Regions from separate parts of the Homo sapiens genome. Here region 2 is linked to region 1. Evidence: fine-mapped expression QTL. A gene starts in region 1. The other region holds a variant in brackets. All regions are shown on one strand. Distances are from middle to middle.

Region 1 (2,901 bases):
AAGTACATAGAAAGTTGTTCACAATCTGAGAGAGAGAGACGAAAAAAAACAGATTGGAAAGAGTATTCAATATTAATACCAGTGCATTCTTGGGTGGCTCTGCAAGGAAAAAAAATGTTAACACTGATCATTTCCGGATGGGAGAATTATGGGTGCTTTTTATCGTCTTGACTATACTTTTCTAAATTATACAAACTCTTAACGATCGATATGCATTTCACAATTAATTGGTTTTAATAAAAAACGCGAGTTAGTGATCTGTTTCTGTATCTCTGGAGCACACCCCGAGACGACACAGCTCAGGGCATGTCCTGGTTAAACATTTGCAAAGAACGCTGTTCTCCAAGTTGGGCAGTGGAAGGTGTACAGTGTGTCAAGAGAAAAATCTACGTCTGAGGAGATATTTGTGACAGCGACCCGGACGCGGATGTGTCTGTCGTCCCCGCCGCCTCCTCCTCCTCCCCGCGTGGTACCCACCTCACCCCGTTGGGCCTCTTCCTCAAGTTCTGTACCTCTCTGGTCTCTTCCAGTTTTAATCTTTAAAAAGAAGAAGAAGCAGCAATGCATAAGCTGAGTGATTCCCCGCGGAATCCAAAGCTAACAGAGCCAATAAGGCACCTTCGAGGGCATCCCAGCCCAGCTACTGAGCCACCAGCACAGTGGTCCAGAGGACGACCTTGTGCCTAGACCCACCGGGAGTCAGAGCCACTGCGCATCCCGGAGGCATCTCTCTCAACCGTTCGAGCTTGGGGCGGTGGCCTCACCCCTTGAGCCTCAATTTCTGCGTCCGCAGAAGGAACCACCACCCGAGCTCACAGTTAACAATGTCAGCGAAGCGCCGAGCCGGTGGTGAGTCCCCCAAACAAGTCTATCTTTACCAAGCCTATGGGAGCCCCGCCCCAAACGCACCGAACCTCCTCTGAGTCCTGCTCATCTTCCTCTGACTCCGAGTCGCCCCGGCGGCGACGGAAAATCTTCCGGACGACCGGCATGGTGACAACGGCCGAGTTGTACAGCCGCCGCGCCTCTGCGCAGCGGCCCAGGCTGCTTCCGGCGCGCGGCAGAGCGGTCAGAGCGCCTGCCCCGTCTGGCCCCGCCCCCGGCACGCACAGTCCGCGTGGCCACGCCCCCTCTCCTGGCGTCAGCCTCTTCCGATTGGACGGCAGAGGGAAGGAGGTGGGGCGTCGCCAGACGGCCCCACAACCCTGCGCGTCGCCTCAGAGGGGGCGCGCTTGACTGACAGGCGGCGGCGGCGCAGTTGCGAGTGCAGGTGAGTTCCGGGCCGCCACCGGCTGCTTCTGTGGGCCGGGCCTCTGAGCATTGGCGACCCCAGCCCGGCTCCGGGCTGACAGGGCCTGGCTTCGCCAGGTACGCCAGACGCAGCGGCCCGGTGAGCGGAGCCCGGGACCCCCCCGGCCGCCGCCGCCCCTCTCCCCTCCTCCGGTCGGCGCCCAGGGGGGCCTCTGGGCCCCAGCACCACCCCACTCTGAGCTCCCTGGGGGCTCGTGGCTTCTCCAGAACCGGGGCCGCCCCCCTCTCATTTCTGCCGGGGCCTGACCTAGCGTTGAAAGCATCCGCGTGGCGTCTCGCGTCTCGGGCGCTGACTTTTCTTTCCTCGGGCTCTGAGCCCTGACGTGCGTTTTTTTCTTTCGGAACAAAAGATGACCACTTCTCTGCGGTGCTGACTTAGAGTCCCAGCGCCGACTGCCTCACAAATAATGGCCCCCAGCTTCTCCGCGAGGAGAGGCGCGTCTGATGTTTTGAAGCCACGCAAGAGGGTTTGAGCCGGGGGACTCCTCCTCGGTGCTTGCCGGCCACCCCCCTGGACCTTCACGGGTCTGGTTTTCCTCCTTCGGCAGGTCTGTCGCTCTACCCTCTGCCCCTTCCACCCCGAAGATGCTGTGAGGATAAAGTTTATTTGAAAAACTGGTATCAGCAAACGCTTAGGAAATACCTAAATGCATAAATAATGGCTTCTAGGACTTTTAAGAACCCCTTAAGTAACAGTAGTTTTCCTTTTCTCAGTGTCATCCCTTACTTTGAGAACTACCTCTTATTAAGCAGTTACTATGTGGCAGGCCCTGGGCAAAGCATCATCTCATTGAATTCTCCCAGCAATCCTTTGAGGTAGATTGTTTTTCGTTTTACAAATGAGAATGCGGAGTCTCCGAGGGGCAGTGCACGCCTCAAGTTACCCAGCTAGGAGGTGGAACAGGAATTGGTTGCAGGTCAGTCTCTGCCGCACGGTTTGCACAGGGCCTGGCACGGTAGGAGTGCAGTAGATGTTTGCTGCTGCTGCAGCTGCTGTTACATCTCATTGGCTAGGGGGAGGGGCCGATGGGGGCTGTCTGGGGTTCCCCTTTCTGGAAGACCATTCCGAAGCAGGGCAGCATTTCTAGAATGCCTTACGTTTTCTCTGGAACAGTCTCCACTGAGATTGTTCTTCTCTTCCTTGGGCTGGAAAAAATAGTAGACTCGGGACTTCTTGCACCAGCGTTTTATCTTTGGTCAAAAGCCATATATTAAAGTCTCAAAGTCTTGCCCTCTGCAGACTGGTTCAGCCAAACCCAGATGCACGTGCACTCACTGGATACGGAGTCCCTGTCAGATGATGGAGAGGCTCCTTGGGAATTGCTGCAGGAGTCCAGGGGGTCAACGTCTGCAGCTCTCACGCTCTCAGAGGTGGCTCTGAATCTGCCCATCAAGCAGCCCATCCACCAGGGGGTACTGGACACTACTAAGGAAAGGGCAAGAAGGCCAGGGGCATTTCTGGACCCTCCTCCTCAGCTGAAGTCCCAGGGTACAGATGAGCTGCTCCCACCCTTGCTCCATGAGGCCAGAGGACCCAGTGATAACCACCACCTGTGCTGTGGCAGATCTAATTGAGTGCTCTTTAGCAAA
Region 2 (2,901 bases), 52 kb after region 1:
CTGCTGCCCTTTCGAGTTGTCCACGTGAAACAGCTCCGCACTGCCTGCAGCTTCACAGAAACTAGTGATTCCAGCCACGCCACCAGGAGTACCGGCTTGAGCACTGGTGATACCAGATAAATAATGAAACTCAGGTGTGCCCTCATTTCACCACCTCCTCCTGCCCCAGCCCCAAGCAATGAGGTCCCCAAAGAGCTAGAGCAGCAACCAGTTGAATGTGCATGCAAAAAATACTCCTGGCCATAAGCAGCCTCTCGCAATCCTCGCACTACATCAGCCCGAATTCCACGTCACCACGGTCTGAGAGCCTCCCCCTCCACCGTGGATGGGGGTGGAACTGAGAGCTATCTAGGTCTCCAGCTCCTCCCAGGGGCCAGCTCCCCAGCCCAGGGGGCTTCCAATGACACCAGGCTGCTTCCACAACTAGGGTCATATCTTCATGCAACAAAACAGTCCCGTGACACGGAGCCACAAGTTATATTTTATTTTAACACGAGATTAACATATAGTTACAAGGTCAATACAAGCCTCCAGTGGAAGCTCTTTATTTGGTTTAATTCCATCTCCAGAGACAAACAGGCAACTCTAGGACCTTTACAGTGGCGATCGGCCTCACACAGCAAAATGCCTCCAAAGTTTAGAATTAGTGCAACACACATACGAACATTTTAAAGGTGCTCAACATCAGGTTAAAATAGAATTCTGGACCTTTTTAAAAAGTTTTTGGATGATATAAGCACAGGAGGCAGAGCCAATAAGAAACATGAAACCAATATTTCTGGAAAAACACTTAGCATGAACGTCACTTTTTGACGTCGTGTAAACTTTCTTCTGCAATGACGGATGTTACCAAAAGGCATCGAGACCTTTGCGCTGCGCTGGTTAGACAAGCCGCAGGCTTATCTCCACGGTGAGCAGGATAAAAACCCCCAAGGAACAGCCCATGACAACCTTCTGTGCCTTTTTATACTTTCCCATCCTACAAAGGAAAAACTGGGTAAAGGACAAGTTCCTCCCTTTCACTGCGTTTCTAAGAACTTTTCAGGGCAGGTTCTTTTAAAATTAGTCATCTTACAACACAACAGTATTCTAGCACGGTGGCGAAGTGACAGGCGGCAGATACGGGGGAGGAAGGAGACGTTCACGGGAAATTCCACATTCTACTCTATGTGAACTGCTCCAGAAAAATACAGACATGATTTCACAGTAGGATTCCCAGAGTAAATGATGATACATAGGACAACTGACCTCCTCTAAGAAGCCCGGCTGGGGCAGCAGTGAGCTTTTCATGGAGCCACGCAGACTGGCCCGGAAGCAACACCCAGGTTCAACATTTAAGAGCACTCGCTATAACATTCTTTTTGGACGCAGGTGGTGGAAAAGTTTAAAAAACAGGCGGAGGAGTGACGGGGGGATACAAGCATATCCTATACTGGGGGTGACGGTCATTCAAAGAGCAAATTACTGCAGCTTATATCTTTTCCACTATGTTGCAAGAAATGAATCTATCCTGACCCATAATATGAAAGATGTGACGCACATGCATTCCCGAGGCTCTAAAATCCCATTTTAAAGAACCGTTTCAC[A/C]TCCTCGTGGAGTGGAGAGTGGTCCACTTGACTTGGTGAGGTCAGAAGTTCCTGAAGATCCCTGTCGTCCCCGTTGGCGGGGGAGCCCATTGTGGAGCTGTGGGGACTGCCACACTCACCATGCACCTGTTGGTTTGCAGGGACAGAGGTGCGGCCCTGACTCTTCTCACCCTGTGTCATCCGGGCTTGTCTTTCGTCTGTCAAGTCAGTCCTCCTGCGTGACTGATGGGTGCACCACGCTTAGGTCACCCGTTGCAGGGACCGGAAGTCCATGGCTCTGCCGCAACCCTGAGCGGTTTGCAGTCCCCCCCGGGGAAGAAGCAGTCAGAGAGGCTCACGCTCACCTACTTTAAAAACCCAAAGCCACTTCCTCTTCACCTGCCTGGGCCTCAGCGTCTCTGCGCTTGTGGTTTCTCGTCCCCGAGGGCTGACTGAGCTGCTCCGGAAGGGTGGTGTGTGGTCAACCTTGGTTGGCTGAGAGGAGCAATTTCCTGGTTTCCACAAGTAAAGACAGCCCCATCCCTTGGGACCTGTCCTTTCCGTCCCTGTCCCTTTGGCTTCTATAGGACTTCCTTGTCTTAGATTCATAAACAGCAAGAGGAACTGAGGATGCTTGAGGGGACCACCTAGTTACCAAAGCCAAGCAAAGAATAAAGCTGCCCGACGTCATCCCCAGGCTTCCGTGGCGCTCTCGGTCACAGGAGCTCTAGGCCAATGGTTCCTCTTGACTGTTTCTGCACCAAATGAGAGGAGGGGCTGCTCTGCTCTAAGGCGTGGCGGGGGGGGGGGGTGGTGGCCACAGATTAGGGGACCTCAGGTTTTCCTCAAAAACCCACACAGGGAAAGAAACTTGGCTCTAAAAGCAAACTCAACGAATTCCACATGCCCTGAAGAGCACGTGATAAAATACAAGGGTGGTGGCGGCGGGATCCCTCAAAGGACCACGAGAGGCACGGGGTCTTTGGTGATGAAAGTGCTAACCTCGGCGGGGTGCGGTAGCTCACACCTGTAATCTCAGCACTTTGGGAGGCTGAGGCGGGCGGATCACCTGAGGTCAGGAGTTTGAGACCAGCCTGACCAACACGGTGAAACCCTGTCTCTACTAAAAATACAAACATTAGCCGGGCGTGGTGGTGCACGCCTGTAATCACAGCTATTTGGGAGGCTGAGGCAGGAGAATCGCTGGAACCCAGGAGGTGGAGGTTGTAGTGAGCCGAGATCATGCCACTGCACTCCAGTCTGAACAATAGAGCGAGACTCCCGTCTCAAAAAAAAAAAAAAAACAACAACAAAAAAGGAAGTGCTACCCTTTTCA

Evidence for each region.
Region 2: its variant is fine-mapped to the expression of USP20 in whole blood (TOPMed, PIP 0.92).

Annotation. Positions count from the first base shown.
Region 1 is chr9:129,834,230-129,837,130 of GRCh38, forward strand. USP20 (ubiquitin specific peptidase 20) reads left to right here and starts at 1,229. Exons shown (of 26, transcript NM_001110303.4): 1 at 1,229-1,270. C9orf78 (chromosome 9 open reading frame 78) reads right to left here and starts at 1,046. Exons shown (of 9, transcript NM_016520.3): 1 at 910-1,046; 2 at 478-537. The coding sequence starts at 992. RefSeq lists silencers at 978-1,327, 1,358-1,507 and an enhancer at 1,479-1,979.
Region 2 is chr9:129,886,718-129,889,618 of GRCh38, forward strand. It overlaps FNBP1 (formin binding protein 1), which reads right to left. Exons shown (of 17, transcript NM_015033.3): 17 at 470-2,901. Among named protein-coding and RNA genes, the nearest start is that of MIR6855, 19 kb to the left of the region's middle. RefSeq lists enhancers at 1,479-1,878, 2,209-2,298, 2,253-2,901. The variant A/C (reference allele first, on the strand shown) is at 1,587.